4 separate regions of the Homo sapiens genome follow, and regions 1, 2 and 3 are each linked to region 4. The links come from fine-mapping of genetic effects on gene expression. A gene starts in region 4. Each other region holds a variant in brackets. All regions are shown on one strand. Distances are from middle to middle.

What was found. PIP is the estimated chance that this variant, and not a neighbour inherited with it, causes the effect.
Region 1: its variant is the best candidate, but not a certain one, in a credible set for the expression of AHCTF1 in whole blood (Lepik 2017, PIP 0.57).
Region 2: its variant is the best candidate, but not a certain one, in a credible set for the expression of AHCTF1 in blood mononuclear cells (TOPMed, PIP 0.54).
Region 3: its variant is the best candidate, but not a certain one, in a credible set for the expression of AHCTF1 in whole blood (GTEx, PIP 0.76).

What each region holds. Positions count from the first base shown.
Region 1 is chr1:246,952,614-246,956,778 of GRCh38, reverse strand. All of the region lies in intron 6 of ZNF670-ZNF695 (ZNF670-ZNF695 readthrough (NMD candidate)), which reads left to right. It also overlaps a transcript of ZNF695 not described here. Among named protein-coding and RNA genes, the nearest start is that of AHCTF1, 23 kb to the right of the region's middle. The variant A/T (reference allele first, on the strand shown) is at 1,691.
Region 2 is chr1:246,829,072-246,833,236 of GRCh38, reverse strand. No RefSeq gene overlaps it. Among named protein-coding and RNA genes, the nearest start is that of LINC01341, 42 kb to the right of the region's middle. The variant C/T (reference allele first, on the strand shown) is at 2,330.
Region 3 is chr1:246,969,989-246,974,153 of GRCh38, reverse strand. All of the region lies in intron 5 of ZNF670-ZNF695 (ZNF670-ZNF695 readthrough (NMD candidate)), which reads left to right. It also overlaps a transcript of ZNF695 not described here. Among named protein-coding and RNA genes, the nearest start is that of ZNF695, 36 kb to the left of the region's middle. The variant A/G (reference allele first, on the strand shown) is at 1,610.
Region 4 is chr1:246,929,401-246,933,565 of GRCh38, reverse strand. It overlaps AHCTF1 (AT-hook containing transcription factor 1), which reads left to right and starts at 1,618. Exons shown (of 36, transcript NM_001323342.2): 1 at 1,618-1,988. RefSeq lists enhancers at 1,236-1,285, 2,406-2,495 and a silencer at 1,966-2,065.

The DNA of each region.
Region 1 (4,165 bases), 23 kb before region 4:
GGTCAGGAGTTCAAGACTAGCTTGGGCAACACAGCAAGACCACATCTCTACAAAAATAAAAATAAATAATAACAATAATAGTTTCATGATATCTAATAACATAGAATGGGCAATTCAATATTAACATACCCCCAATTATCCCATGATCTTTTTTTTATTTTTGGAGGCAGAGTCTCACTCTGTCCCCCAGGCTGGAGTGCAGCGGCACAATCTCGGCTCACTGCAACCTCTGCCTCCCGGGTTCAAGTGATTCTCCTACTTCAGCCTCCTGAGTAGCTGGGATTATAGGTGACTGCCACCAGGCCCGGCTAATTTTTGTATTTTTTGTAGAGACGGGGTTTCACCATGTTGGCCAGGCTGGTCTCAAACTCCTGACCTCAAGTGATCTGCCTGCCTCAGCCTCCCAGAGTGCTGGGATTACAGGCATGAGCCACCGCGCCCGGCCCCCATGACCATCTTTTATAGATTTTTTTAAAAATAATGATCCAATCGGCCGGGCACAGTAGCTCATGCTTGTAATCCCAGCACTTTGGGAGGCCGAGGCTGGTCGATCACGAGGTCAGGAGTTCAAGACCAGCCTGGCCAACTTGGTGAAACCCCATCTCTACTAAAAATGCAAAAAAATTAGCCGGGACTGGTGGCCGAAGCCTGTAATCTCAGCTACTTGGGAGGCTGAGGCAGAGAACTGCTTGAACCCAGGAGGTGGAGGTTGCAGTGAGCCGAGATCATGCCACTGTACTCTAGCCTGGGTTACAGAGCAAGACTCTGTCTTAAAAAAAAAAAAAAAAAAAAATCCAATCCAAACTAATATCTGGCATGTGGGTATCTTTGGTTAATGTCCTCATCTGGCTCCCGTGCCTCCGTACCTAAATCTGTCAAGTAAGGGGTTAGTGATGAGACCGTTGTCTACCCAGGGAGTTCTTGTGAGCATCATATTCACTTTCTTCAGCTGGGACTCACTGAGCACCTTCTGTGTGCTGGACATTGTCCAGAAGACAGTAGTACTCTTAGGAGCCTACATTCTAGAGAGATGGTAGAAAAGAACGGACTTTGAAAAGTTAACATCGCTAGGTAAATATAGGGCGTTATCATTTTAGGCTAAAGGATTGAAACAAATCTTGGGGAAAAAGCCTCCTTTGTACAAAAGAAAATGGATTTAGATTAAAATTAATTAGTTCTGTTCTGTGTAGGTGTTTGTTTACAAGCTCAATGAAGAGATCAGCAATACTGAGTAGAATGATAATTTTAGAGTTTAGAGTATATGAGAACACTGCGGGAGAGCTTCTACTCTTAATTAAATAAAATTACTTATACACATTTTGTCACATAATACAGTTAAGCACTGCATAACAGTTTCAGTCAATGATGGACCTCATAGACGACAGTGATCCCCTAAGGTTACAATAGAGCTGAAAAATTTCTATCACAAATACTTACCATTGTGTGATGATTTCCTTACACTATTCAGTACAGTAACATGCTGTACAGGTTTGTAGCCTAGGAGCAATAGGCCTGTATTGGTCTATTTTCATACTGCTATGAAGAAATACCCAAGACTGGGTAATTTTTAAAGAAAAAGAGGTTTAATGGATCCAGTTTCACATGGCTGGGGAGGCCTCACAATCGTGGTGGAAGGTGAAGGAGGAGCAAAGGCACATCTTCATGGTGGCAGGCAAGAAAGCACGTGCAG[A/T]CTTATTCACTGTCGTGAGAACTGTATGGGAAAAACTCCCCCTATGATTCAATTACCTCCCACCAGGTCCCTCCCATGACACGTGGGGATTATGGGAGCTACAATTCAAGATGAGATTTGGATGAGATTTGGGTGGGGACACAGCCAAACCATATCAAGGCCTTACCTGATAGCCTAGGTGTATAGTAGGCTATACTATATAGATTTGTGTAAGTACACTCAATGATTTTCTCAGAATGTATCCTGAGATGACTGTATGACTGTATTAAATTTTTATTTTCTCAGTTATTATTTTCCTAAAAACTTAGTGAGCAAGAAAACCCTATAAGAATATAGAGATAGCAAGTCAGAGTTTCGAGCTGGAAGTGGCCTGAGAGATCGTCTAATCCAGATTCCACATTTTTACAGATGATCTGATCAGTGATCATTTTACAGGAATTTGCATGAAACTTAAGGCTCTAGACACACATGGTTTCCATATATAGAAGCCTGATTCCAAATCCTGTACATTAGACAAGACAATCAGAATCTTGTGTTATCCTGATTTTTGTTCTTCATCTTCCAGTTACATGGGTTTTCTTGTGAGAGCTGAAATAATAGTATCACCTTTGGGGAACGGTGACTGCCAGTTTTGGATCAATCTTAGGCCACTGGAAGGTTGGTGGATCTTCTCCAGCAATTCGGGCTGAACTCAAGCAAAGCTGAGTCTAAGATCAGTTTGGACCCTTTCCCCTGGAACAGCTGGCAGGCATTGCCTGTTCCTGTCCTTGGCTTTCAACTGCTGGACAACATGTTTGGGGAGTGTGTGCCAATATTTGGGTTTTTATTCTTCTGGTTTAACAGTTGTTAGTGCCGTTGGCTCTCAGGGAAATTCAGGACAATCTCCTTCTGTAGCTTTAAGGTTGGCCTGATTGGCAAGACAGTTGAGGACAAACTGAAGTCATTCGTTCATTCATGTGCCAGTGTCCCTGTGCTCAGAAACAGTTGTTTTAAGGATGGCAAAATGGAAGACTTGAGGATTTATGATAATACTGAATGGCTATCCTCTAGGGCACTGTTGAGTCTTAGCAGAGTCCCAAGCTCTACACTTACCCTGAGTTTTTAGGCTTCTTTGTTTTTCGGGTTTCTTTTTTTTTTTTTTTTTGCTTGTTTGTTTGTTTGTTTTGAGACAGTCTCACTCTGTCGCCCAGGCTGGAGTGCAGTGGCGTGATCTCAGCTCACTGCAACCTTCATCTCCTGGGTTCAAGTGATTCTCCTGCCTCAGCCTCCTGAGTAGCTGGGATTACAGGTGCCTGCCACTATGCCCAGCTAATTTTTGTATTTTTAGTAGTAATTTTGTATTTTTACCACGTTGGTCAGGCTGGTTTTGAACTCCTGACCTCAGGTGACCCACCTACCTTGTCCTCTCAAAGTGCTGGGATACAGGCGTGAGCCACTACGCAGGGCCCATTTCTTTGTTGTTTTTTTGTTTGTTTTTGAGATGGAGTCTTGCTCTGTCACCCAGAGCTAGAGTGCAGTGGTGCGATCTTGGCTCACTGCAACCTCTGCCTCCCGGGTTCAAACGATTCTCCTGCCTCAGCCTCCCGAGTAGCTGGGACTACAGGCGTGTGCCACCACGCCTGGCTAATTTTTTATATTTTTTTTACTAGATGCGGGGTATCACCATGTTAGCCAGGATGGTCTAGGTCGCCTAACCTCGTGATCCGCCCGCCTCGGCCTCCTAAAGTGCTGGGATTACAGGCGTGGCCCACTTTGTTTTTATTACTGAGGTTATTCTGTAGGTTTTCTGAAAATAAGCAATCAGCATCTAGGTCCAAATTTACAATTTGTAATGACATTCCAAAATTCATCAATGAATAAAACAATAGCTAGGAATGTCATGTTAATTATTTAAATACGTTGGAATCTGCCAATGTTCCCTTAAGCCTCCCTCCAAAGGAGGCCTGAAGTTGAGCGTATGACAAGAAAATATCTAGTAGAGTAGAACAAACTTAGTATTACACCGAAAGCCTAGGGAAGTATTACAGTCCAGCCATTGGGAACCTCAGAGGATTGTGGGGTGGACATGCCCTTCTAAATTGTGGCTCAAGTAGGGTCACATCCTTTCCTAGGTTTCCTTCATTGTGGCTGAGACTGGCAATAATTTCTTTTTTAAAACAAAATTTATACAGATAAGGCCTCACTATGTTGCCCAGGCTGGTCTTGAACTCTTGAACTCCTGGGCTTAAGTGATCCTCCTGCCTCAGCCTCCCAAAGTGCTGGGATTACAGATGTGAGCCACTGCACCTGGCCAAAAATCAATAGTTTCTGAAAAGAAGTTGCTGAATACTGTTGAGGAATAAAAGATGAATTAAATATGGAGAATAAAGGAAGCATAACACCAGCATGCTGGAATGCACCTGTAGTCCCAGCTACCCAGGAGGCTGAGGAGGGAGGATCACTTGAGCCCAGGAGTTCAAGCTTGCAGTAAGCTGT
Region 2 (4,165 bases), 100 kb after region 4:
TGAACCCGGGAGGCGGAGCTTGCAGTGAGCCGAGGTCATGCCACTGCACTCCAGTCTGGGTGACAGAGCGAGACTCAGTCTCAAAAAAAAAAAAAAAAAAAAAAGACAGCTACTCATAATTATGACATAATCATGATTGGTAATGTGGGGAAGCAAATGTCTCAAAGCTTCTATACATATGTATATATTTTTTCATATATACAGAAAATTTTAAAATACGATTAATACAATAATTTCCGTTGTTGAACCAACTTTGAAGCCCTAGGATAAATTCCATTTGGTCGTGGTATGCAATTCTTTTTATACATTGCTGGATTTAGTTTCATAGTATTTTGTTGAGGATTTTTGCACGCATAATCATAAGAGATAATGGTTTGTAATTGTGTTTTTTCTTTTTGAGACGCAGTCTCACTCTGTCACCCAGGCTGGAGTGCAGTGGCGCAGCGTCAGCTCACTGCAACCTCCACCTCCTGGGTTCAAGCAATTCTCATGCCTCAGCTTCTTGAGTAGCTGGGATTACAGGCACCCACCACCACGCCCGGCTAATTTTTGTATTTTTAGTGGAGACACAGTTTCACCATGTTGGTCAGGCTGGTCTCGAACTCCTGACCTCATGATCCACCTCCCTCAGCCTCCCAAAGTGCTGGGATTACACGTGTGAGCCACCGTGCCCGGCATGTAGTTTTTTGTTTGTTTTTGTTTTTCTGAGACAGAGTCTCACTCTGTCGCCCAGGCTGGAGTGCAGTGGCACAATCTTGGCTCACTGCAAGCTCTGCCTCCTGGGTTCAGGCCATTCTCCTGCCTCAGCCTCCCAAGTAACTGGGACTAAAGGCACCTGCCACCACGCCTGGCTAATTTTTTCTATTTTTGGTAGAGATGGGGTTTTACCATGTTAGCCAGGATGGTCTCGATCTCCTGACCTCGTGATCCACCCGCCTCGGCCTCCCACAGTGCTGGGATTACAGGCGTGAGCCACCGCGCCCGGCCAGCATTTCTACTTCTATGTCTTCCCTTGTTCTAGGTCTATTTAGATTTTTTTCTTGAGTCAATTTCTGTTATTTCTGCCTTTGTAGGAATTTATTTCATCTAAGTTATCTAATTTGTTGGTATTTATTTGTTCAAAGTATTCCTTTATAATCCTTTCTTTAATCATAGTTTTCTTTCATTCTGTGAATATATTCATAATGACTACTTTAAAAGTATTTTTCTGATAAATCCTGCATCTGCTCACTCTGTTTTTGTTACCTGTTTCTTCCTCAGTGTATGGATCATACTTTCCTGTTACTTTGCGTGCCTCCTAATTTTTTCTTAGAAACTGGACATTGTAGATATATTGTAGCAGCTCCTAGCTCTGCGTCTCCTCTGTGGCTTGTTACTTTCATTTGCCAGTTTGTTTAGTGACTGGCTGAATTATTTTAGTAAAGTCTATTATGTCCCCCAGCCCCCACCGTTGTTCCTTAGGGAAGCACAGTTTTGGGTCTGCCCCAGTCACGCTGGGAGAACAATGGTTTTGGTAGGGCCCCCTTCCTGTCTTTCCTTGCCCATGCCCAGCTGTTAAACTTCACTATTTGCTGGCTGATTATTGTTTTCAACAATGTCCTGGGGTATAAATTGCTTTACAAGTGAATCTGATCAAATTCTGCTTCCTTTGCAGGGAATCGTTTCTAAAACCAGTGTTTGATATTTTTTGACCTTCCAGCTATCTTATTCTCCAGTTCATCCCCACAAATTAGAGGGCATACACTTTTACTTGTATTTGACTCTTTTCTCAGTTGTCTTTCATCACAACCTCCACCATTCTCGAGGGCATCCTTAGGCTTGAACTTCCCCAATCTGTTACAAATGAAGTCAGTTCCTTTAGGAAGAGATGTTAGGCACCATGGGTTGTATGGCCTAATTATCCCCCAGGCAAAATCTCTAAGCCAGAGCTCTGGAATTGGATGTGTGAACAATAGTCAATTGCTCTTCAGATGACACCTGCTCTAGGAGCTGAGTCCTCAGTGGAGGTGGGGTCCTAGCCTAAGGTCCTCTCAGCTTGTCTCTCCTGGTGTTGAACCCTCTCAGGACCCAGGGCAAAAGTGGTAAGTACTCCAGTAAGCTCAGCATGCTGCAACCAAAATAGAGCCTCCATTCCTCGAGTGAGAGCTGGGTGTGAAAGGGAGACCCCCAATTAACCTGACACTTGGCCTCACTAACAGGTAGAGAGAGGCAGAATGAGAAATGCTAATATCTTGATCTTCCTGGAAGAAAGTCCTCCAGCTGCGATCTGGAGCAGAGACAGAACCCTGTGTTACTGGCTCTAGCTGTCCAGAGTGGAATCTCCACCTTC[C/T]TGAGCTGGCAGGGAAAGGAAAGGAATGATCTTGCTTCAAATACCACAAACTCTTTTCTTACCAAATTTTAGTACATTTTCTTGAATAGATGCTTTTTTTTTTCTTTTTGAGACAGTCTCACTCTGTCGCCCAGGCTGGAGTGCCGTGGTGCAATCTCAGCTCACTACAGCCTCCACCTCCCAAGTTCAAGCTATTCTTATGCCGTAGCCTCCTGAGTAGCTGGGATTACAGGCACCTGCCATCACACACACATAATTTTTGTATTTTTAGTAGAGACGGGGTTTCACCATGTTGGCCAGGCTGGTCTCAAACTCCTGACCTCAAGTCATCCGCCCGCCTTAGCCTCCCAAAGTGCTGGGACTACAGGTGTGAGCCACCGCGCCCGGCCATGAATAGATGTTTCTTCATGTGCTGTTTGTCCTTAGGACCATTAAAAAGTGTTTTTTTTTCTTCATTTTCATTTTTTAATGGATAATTTTTCACTAGTTTTACTGGGGAGTTCACCAGTTATGCAGGAAGTCAGTATCTCCACTACTGTAGTTATTGTTATTAGTATACCTGGGTGTTAGAGAGCCAGCTCTTCTCAGAAAGTTAATGTGACTAGAGACAAGCCTTTCAAAAATTCCGAGGGAGTACAGGAACAACTGCTTGTCATAATAGCTGCTAAAAGTAACACAATTAGAGAACAAACTGAGGGAAGGGTAAGTTCTTGGCTTAATTTCTTACTAGGTATAAAGACTTGCAAAACAATGAACTTGGATAACAAAGAGAAACTGGAATGATTGACTCCGAATTTGTAATTTGACTGTAGAGAGAGAAGAATTCTGGGAGCAAATGTGTGATTTCCATGCATTCCAGAACTACCACCACTACACAGGACCCTAAGAATCCAGAGCATGTGAAGACATTTACTTTTGACCTGGCATATTGGTCTCACAATGGATTTCAAAGGGATAAGGATGGTGTCCTTATTTCAGCTGATCCTAGTCGTAAATTTGCAGGCCAGGTAAGTTGCTTTAAAACACAGCTTCAATGCCAGTTTTTTGTTGTTTTGTTTTTGATGATGTGTTCACAGTGTGAAAGTATAATAATTTTATGCAAGCATAAATCTATGTTTCCATATGAGAATTTCACTTTAAATTTACTCCTTTTCTATGCTGAACGTGAGGTCCAAAAACACAGCTATGGCCTAAGTAATTTTTAGATACTCAAATCAGTTCATTTGCCAATGTATTGACACACTGAAAAAGGTATGACAGTCAAGTCAATTATATTTTGCTTCCTTGAGATAAGCAAAATAAGCAAACTGTATGAGGCACTTAGCATCTGAGAACTTCTGTTTTAATGAGCATTTATCATATGCCATGCACTGTTCTGCCTGAAAGTTGCTCACAATTTGGTTTGGGGAGACAGGAAAAAAGTACACTCAGATGTTACAGGCTCTGTGATAAGATGTATGGGATACAGTGGGGTACAAAGGTGAGGTGGTCATTCAATCTAGACAGGATATCTGGTGAATGGTTTAATAAAGGGTATGATGTTTAGGCTGAATTTTGACAGACAAGGAGAAACAGTCAGAAAAAGTTATGGGGAGGAAATGAACAGAGCCTCAGTGACATGTGGGACAATCTTACTCTACATGTAATTGGAGTCACAGAAAGAATGGGAGGGGCGTGTGTGCAAAAAATACTTGAAGGAATGATGGCTGAAATTTTCCCAAATTTGATGGAAACTATAAACCCACAGGTCTAAGAAGAGCAATAAGTCCTAAGTAGAATAAGGAAAATCACAGTAAGTCTCATTTTAATTAAATTGCTCTAATCCAGTGATAAAAT
Region 3 (4,165 bases), 41 kb before region 4:
GTTTGTTTTTTATTCCAAATAAGCTAGGCAATTAATAAGTTAGCAATGGATGGCCTGGAAAATTTCATTACCCAAGCCTTACATTATCAGCACATCTGCTTATGAAAAAATACTTAATACTTAAAAATACTTAAAATAATTAATAATTCTTGATTATCTCCAGGAAGAAGGAAACCACTGACAGGCAACCTGGGAGGGAGTGAACGGTTATACTGAGGCCATGAAAGGCACTGACATTCACACATAATAGGGTAATAAAAGGGAATTCACATCTATTGAGTGCCTACATGGGTGGGATATAATTTGGTTCTTAAGATGCACCAGCTGTGGAGTCCATCAGACCTGGATTTGAATCCCAATTCCATCATTCATCATTATGTGATTGTGGATATGTTTTTAACCCCTCTGATCTTCGCTTTTCTCATCTATAAAAGATGCCTTTTTCAAGTTGTTATGAGGCTTAAACAAGATAATTGTGTACGAATCTGGGCAAAATGCCTGTAATTTTGTGTTTAATACATAGAAGAGTATCATCCTTCTCTCATTTAATTTTTAGAGCAAACAAAGTCTGTGGTAATCATTTTTTTATAGTTAAATCAAGGATCAGAAAGATGAAATCACCATAGCCACATAGCAACTCACGGTACACATTCACATGATAATTGCTGGTCGCAAGTAGCAATGATAATCACATGTATAATCTCACATTATGTAGTGGTTTTACTTTACATAAGCCTCCTTATTTGTTGGAACCATAGATTCTAAGTTGCTCTATCAAAGCAATCATTAGAAATATGTGACGTTCGGCCGGGCACGGTGGCTCATGCCTGTAATCCCAACACTTTGGGAGGTTGAGGCGGGCAGATCACCTGAGGTCGGGAGTTCGAGACCAGCCTGACTGACATGGAGAAACCCTGTCTCTACTAAAAATACAAAATTAGCCTGGTGTGGTGGCGCATGCCTGTAATCCCAGCTACTCGGGAGGCTGAGGCAGGAGAATCTCTTGAACCTGGGAGGTGGAGGTTGCGTTGAGCCGAGATTGCCCCATTGCACTCCAGCCTGGGCAACAAGAGTGAAACTCCGTCTCAAAATATATATATATATATATGTTCTTAGTGTACACATTTTAGGAAATTTCCTATTACTCTTCTGTTTGATTTAATGTGTGTGATATTTTCAGAAATATGTAAGAATTTATATAGTATATATATATATATATATACACATTAAAAATATAAGTTGACATCACAGAGTAGACTTGACTCATGACAAATTTTTTTTCTGAAAGCACCTGCAGAAATCGGTGTTCTTTTGCGTTTCTAAAAAACCCAGAGGCTGCCGGGCTCAGTGGCTCACGCCTGCAATCCCAGCACTTTGGGAGGCCAAGGTGGGTAGAACTCAAGGTCAGGAGTTCAAGACCAGCCTGGCCAACATGGTGAAACCCTGTCTCTACTAAAAATACAAAAATTAGCTGGGCGTGGTGGCAGGTGTCTGTAATCCCAGCTACTTGGGAGGCTGAGGCAGAGAACTGCTTGAACCCGGGAGGTGGAGGTTGCAGCGAGCCGAGATCACGCCATTTACTCCAGCCTGGGCGACAGAATGAGACTTC[A/G]TCTCAAAAAAAACTCAGAGGCCACTGGGGAGAGGAGGCTTTTTGGATTCCCAGTAGTGCACAAGACTTAGATTTGATTACAGTAGTAATTTAAGCATAATCCATTGTAAGGTGATGATCCAGAGAGACTTCATAACAACGCAGAAACTTAAAAGCTCCCAGCAGCCAGAAAGGAAGGAAAATCAGAATTATGGTGGGGCAGGGCAACCACTTGGGGGGTTGCTGTGGGAGGGGACAGCCACCGGTTTGGGTAGCCACAGGGCATTGTGAGCCAAGTGCCTGGGACAGGAACTCTAGGAGTGATTGGTTTCTGGTAACCAGGTGACCTAGGAGGCCTGGTTAGTAGGCACAGGCCAGTGGCCTTCAGTCGGCAGTCAGTGGCAAGAGGAGGCGGAGCACCGACCTGCTACAGTGCTTTCTCCCTGCATGGTTGCGCTTCTCTGCACTTGTTGGGCTCCATCCATTTTAAATAAACCAGCAGGCCCCTGCCCTCAGGGGCAAGTTGTCTGAGCCGGGGGAGGGAAGGAGCTGAGGCAATCCCAGCACTTTGGGAGGCCCCGGTGGATGGATCACCTGAGATCAGGAGTTCAAGACCAGCCTGGCCTTGAACTCCTGATGAAGTTCAAGATGGTGAAACCCCGTCTGTACTAAAAATACAAAAAATTAGCCGGGTGTGGTGGTGCACTGTGGGCGGGAAGCCACCCAGGTGCCAAGGCAAGAGACCAAGGGCACAAGCTGTTGCAGTATAATAAAGAAAATGTATAGAATAAGAATAGTTATACTAGAAATAGATTACAGATATGATTATATATAAATATCATTAATCATTAGTTTCTAGCATTACTCTTTATTCCAATATTATAATAATCTTTGTTTTACAGTATAACCTAGGAAAAACCAGGCCAAACAGAGATAGGAGCTGAAGGGACACAGTGAGAAGCGACCAGAAGGCAAGAGTGTGAGCCCTCTGTCATGCCCAGACAGGGCCACTAGAGGGCTCCCTGGTCTAGCGGTAGCGTCAGTGCCTGGGGAAGGCTCCCGTTACTTAGCAGACCAGGAAAGGGAGTCTCCCTTTCCCTGGGGAATTTAGACAAGACTCTGCTCCACCACCTCTTGTGGAAGGCCTGACATCAGTCAGGCCCACCCACAGCTATCCGGAGGCCTGACCGTCTCCCTGTGATGCTGTGCTTCAGCGGTCACACTCCTGGCCCGCTTTCATGTTCCGCCCTGTACAACTGGCTCCGCCTTCTAGATAGCAGTAGCAGAATCAGTGAAGACTAAAGTCTTTGAAATGCACAGAAGAAATAATGATGTAAGCTGCCCTCTCTCTCTGCCTGGGCTACCAAATGGAAGGGCCCCCTCTCCGGTGGACAGGTGACTCGTGTGACCTTACCTATCATTGGAGATGGCTCACACTCCTTACCCTGCCAACTTGTCTTGTAGCCAATAAATAACAGCGCAGCCATGCATTCGGGGCCACTACCCATCTCCGCATTTAGGTGGTAGTAGTCCCCTGGGCCCAGCTGTCTTTTCTTCTATCTCCTTGTCTTGTGTCTTTATTTCTACGATCTCTCGTCTCTGCACACAAGGAGAAAAACCCACAGACCCAATAGGGCTGGACCCTACAGCGCATGCCTGTAATCCCAGCTACTCGGGAGGCTGAGGCAGGAGAATCGCTTGAACTCGGGAGGTGGAGGTTGCAGTGAGCCAAGTTTGCACCATTGCACTCCAGCCTGGGCGACAGAGCGAGACTTCGTCTCAAAACACAAAAACAAACAAACAAACAAAACACTTTGTTTTTAGCCGTTCTACTAAGGGTCTTTACTCCTCACCCTAAGTCTTCAACAAGGGCTCTCCACTCTGCCTGTTAGGAACTCACATTTACCAGCCCTGTGTCAGCTTTGGGAATTGTTTAGCTTATAGATTCCCGTCAATTAATTGTTCCTTGCCAGGCTTGGTGAGTTTCACCTTATACATGCCAGATTAGTATTCATGCCAAGTCTCAAGGGGACTCGTATGCAGATTTCTGGAGCTCTCTTTACATAGCTTCTTCCTCTTCAATACTCTGCCTCACAAATTGCAAACTGCCGTAGCCATCCCCACCTCCAGTCTTTCCTCAACTCAGCAAGATCTCTTGGGCTCTGTTTGGATTCCTTACACAACAACTCGAAAATTGCCTGCAGACAAAGAACTGGAGTGATTGTAGGGCTCACCTCTGTTTCCCTCCTCTCCGAGATCACACTTTACACTACCTACAGTCCTAATATTTGAATACAGTTGTTTCGTATATTTTGTCAGTTTTCTAGTTGTCTATGCCAGAAGGGGAACATCTGTCTCAATCACTCTTTCACTGTCGGAACAGAAGTTACTGATTTGTTCTTAACACTAGTTTACTTTGAATTAATGCGTAATTTAAAACTCAAAAACACCTGTGTTAAAAGAGCTGCTCTCTATACTAAGTGCTATGATAGCAATACTGGAAAGGATTTTAGGAGAAGATACTCAAGTTGACTCTTTAAGTATCTCTAACTTTACAAGGCCTGTGGTTTGGCTCTG
Region 4 (4,165 bases):
TAGGCTGGGCATGGTGGCTCATGTCTGTAATCCCAGCACGTTGAGAGGCTGAGGCAGGAGGATCTCTTGAGCCCAGGAGTAGAGACCAGCTTGGGTAACACAGTGAGACAGTCTCTACAAAAAATAAAAAATAAGGCCGGGCGCGGTGGCTCACGCCTATAATCCCAGCACTTTGGGAGGCTGAGGCAGGTGGATCACGAGGTCAAGAGTTCAAGACCATCCTGGCCAACATGGTGAAACCCTGTCTCTACTAAAAATACAAAAATCAGCTGGGCATGGTGGCGCACACCTGTAGTCCTAGCTACTCTGGAGGCTGAGACAGGAGAACCTCTTGAACCTGGGAGGCGGAGGTTGCAGTGAGCCGAGATTGTGCCACTGCACTCCAGCCTGGTGACAGAGCGAGACTCCGTCTCAAATAAATAAATAAATAAATAAATAAATAAAATAAAAAAATTAATGGGACGTAGTGGCGCATGGTGGTCCATGCCCATAGTCCCAGCTACTTGGAGGGCTGAGGTAGGAGGATCATTTGAGCCCACGAGTTCGAGGCTGCTGTGAGCCTTGATTACACCACTGCACTCCAGCCTGGGCGACAGAGCGAGACACTGTCTCAAAAATAAAAAAATTTAAAAAGCACATATGAAAGGTAACAGAAAAGTAGAAACTTTCCTGATAAAAGAGCATCTTCTTAAAATCCCTACTCTACCTCATGTTATAATCCTTTTACTTACTACTTAGTATTAAGGATACGTTCCCTATCTGTTTGAAACATGTTTGGCGCTGGGATTTGCTTCAAAGGAAGATACTAACAAGAAATAAGAAATTCCACAATGAAAACCCGCGGTGACCAAAAAGATAACAGTGATTTGGGGTAAAATTTTGACTAAAAAGATTAGGCTAGGCTGCGCGAGCATTTTTGGCCATGAAAGCACAGGAGGATGCTAGAAAAAACAGCACCGTGGAAAAAGCGTTTCCCCAGAAGTCTGGGAGCCCACCTTTGGCATGAAAAGCGGGAGCACAGGTTGTAGTGAGCCAAGATCGTGCCACAGCACTCCAGCCTGGGCAACAGAGCAAGACTCCGTCTCCAAAAAAAAGAAAAAGAAAAAAAGAAAAGTGGGAGCACAGAACAGAAAATACAGAATGCAAGCTGCCAATTATGGGAGAAAGATTATCACTCGGCCCCCAGCTGGCAGGGCCACACGATTACGTGACAAGAGAGTCCGCCTGCAATCGCAGCAGGCGGCTGGCAGAGCCCGGCGCGACCCCCAGCGAAGACTACCACTCCCAACTGCGCACGGGGCGCGCCGCCGGGGCCGCCAGGGCGGCTTCACGCGCAAGGCACTGTGGGACTCGTAGTCTTTCTCCCCACCAGCTCCTCGGAGGCGGAGAGACCCGATTTTTTTGTAAATGATCCGCCCTTCCAGGCCCTGCTTCTCTTTCCTCCCTTTCCCTCCCACCTCCTTCTTTCACCGAGAGTTTGAAAATTCCCGCGGAGCCGGCGCTAGAGCGCGGAACCATCGCGAGAACTCTGGTCCCTGCAGCCGCGATCTCCCGCCGGTTCTCCCCTCCCTCTCCGCCCTTTCCTCTGCTCCCTCCCTTCCGGGGCGTGTGGAACTCGGTTTTGTCGGCGCAGGGTAATGCGCAGAGCGGGGCCGGCGCTGTCCGAGGCGAGCAGGCAGCGTTGCAAGGGGAAGGACCCAGAAGCGCGGCGGGAGCAGCGACTGCGTTTTAGCCGCTGAGCGGTCTGCAGGCCTACAGCCCGCGAAGGCACTCTCGGGGGCGTGTGGCTCTGAGGTGGCCGGGGAGGTCGCAGGCGGCGGCCGGAGCGCAGAGGAGCGGCTTCAGCCGGGCGGAGGGGTGTGAGCCCGGCCCGTGGCGGCCACGTCTCCCGGGAGATGCTGTGACGGACCCGCACGGGAGGAGCTCGCGCCTGGCCTGGCGACCCGGTGGACTCGGCCCGCGGCGGCGCGCTCACCCGCCCCGTTCAGGTAGGGGGAAGGGAGGGAGGGGGTTGGGCCCGCGCGGCGGAGGGCGGGTCGCGCGGCCTGGACCCGCGGCGGCGGCGGCGGCGGCGGCGGCGGCGGCGGGGCTTCTGCCCCGCGAGCGCCGGGCCTAGGCCGGGCGTGCGCGGGGCCAACGGATGGGGCTCGAGGGGGCGAGCGGTGGCGGTGGCGGGTACGGCAGGCTCGCGGGCGCCGGGCTTCGTTACATAATCTCGGACCGGAGGAGCGGCGGCACATGGCGGCGGAGCGGCGCTGGTGGTTCGCGTCCTGCGCCGGCAGTCGGGTCCCTTTACGGACGGCCGGGGCCGCGACCCTTTCCCACTGTTCTCCCACGCGATGGACTCGTTGGCGGGCCTTTCCCCGAGGGAAGCGGCCGGCGTGCTGAGCCTGTCCTGTGTTGGCGTGTGTTCCACATGCGCTTGGGCCTGGCCACAGTGAGTAGTCCTGGCGGGGAAGAAGTTGGACTCGGGGCTCAGCCGTGAGGTTCCAGCTCACCCGATTGGTCAGATCAAGGAGATTTAAAATAAAAGCACATCTTGGGGTGCTTTGCCTTCCTTTTTCCTACCTGGGAAACAGGACGGTTTCTTTTGCCACTGGTTGACTGTTTTGGTTTGGGTGTTTTGTTTTGAGAGATGGGGAAATTTTGTTCTCAAAGCTTACGAGGTTCATACTATCTGTGTGCAAAGTTTTATGAGATGAGCGTTATTTTTATTTCCAAATCGTCAGTTGTAGAAATTTTTGGAAGAACTGGGTTCTTCATAGAACAAAACGTAAATCCTTTGGGGAAATCCTAAACGATATTTATTCTCAGAATATCCTAAAGAACCTGTAGATTTTAAGAACTGTCTTTGGCTGGGCGCAGTGGCTCCTGTCTGTAATCCCAGCACTTTGAGAGGCTGAGGCGGGAGGATCGCTTGAACCCAGGAGTTTGAGACCAGCCTGAGCAACATGGCGAGACCCCCCCTTTTTTTTTTTTAAACTGTTTTTTTGTGAGCTTTCACTGATAGAGTCTCTTAGGAGAGAAGAAATTAGAGTGGTTTACTTATTTCGGAGGATTTGACCTGGGATGACAAGCCCAGTTAAGGTTAATACTTGAAGGGATGTTTTAAGTGTGCCAAGCGCTATGGGAAGTCTACGTTGTCTCTGTACTGTGATTTTTGGATCCTGATCCTTCAGTAACATACTACCAAGCTGTCACGAGTTTGCAAACAACAATAATTATCTTGAAAAAATTTTTAAAACATCATGTCAACCGGGAATTGGTGGCGCCTCTAGTCGCGCGCCTACTTGGGAGGCTGAGGCGGGGGGAACGTTTGAGCTTCAGCCTCAAACTGAGAGTTCGAGGGTTGCAGTGAGCTAGGATCGCGCCGCTGCACTCAGCCTGTGTGACAGAGCGAGAACCTGTTGCTAAAATAAAATAAAAAAGATCGTTATACATCAGTTTTGAGACTTTTGTTTTCTTTTTATGCTTCTCCTTTTTCATAGGTACAGATACATCTTTTTTTTTTTTTGAGACGGGGTCTTGCTCTGTTGCCCAGGCTGGAGTGCAGTGGCACAATCTTGGCTCACTGCAACCTCCGTCTCCCAGGTTCAAGCGATTCTCCTGCCTCAGCCTCCTGAGTAGCTGGGATTACAGGCGCACGCCACCACACCCGGCTAATTTTTGTATTTTTAGTAGAGACGGGGTTTCACCATATTGGCCAGGCTGGTCTTGAACTTCTGACCTCGTGATCCGCCCGCCTTGGCCTCCCAGAGTGCTGGGATTACAGGCGTGAGCCACCGCGCCCGGCTGGTACAGATATATTTTAAGAGGAAGCAAAACGTTGTGTCTTTCACGCCTACCTTTAATATTTTCAGGGACTTTTCTTTCTTCCCAGAATGAAGTGTAACTTCCCTCGGTTAGCTCAAAGGTCTCTACAATAAGTATATGCTACTGTCTATCCTCATATGTTAACAAATTTTATGCTTTTGCTATTCCAGAATCGTCATCAATCCTGGACTCATTCTGTGGAAGAGATGTTTCCACTCTGATGTTTCTTTGCTCATGTCCTTCATCCTGGAGTGCCATCTTTCCTTTTTTAAATACTCAAATTTCAGGTCCTCCTTCTAAATCCAATGTTTTCACTGTATTTTTATTTTTATTTTTATTTTTTTGAGACGGA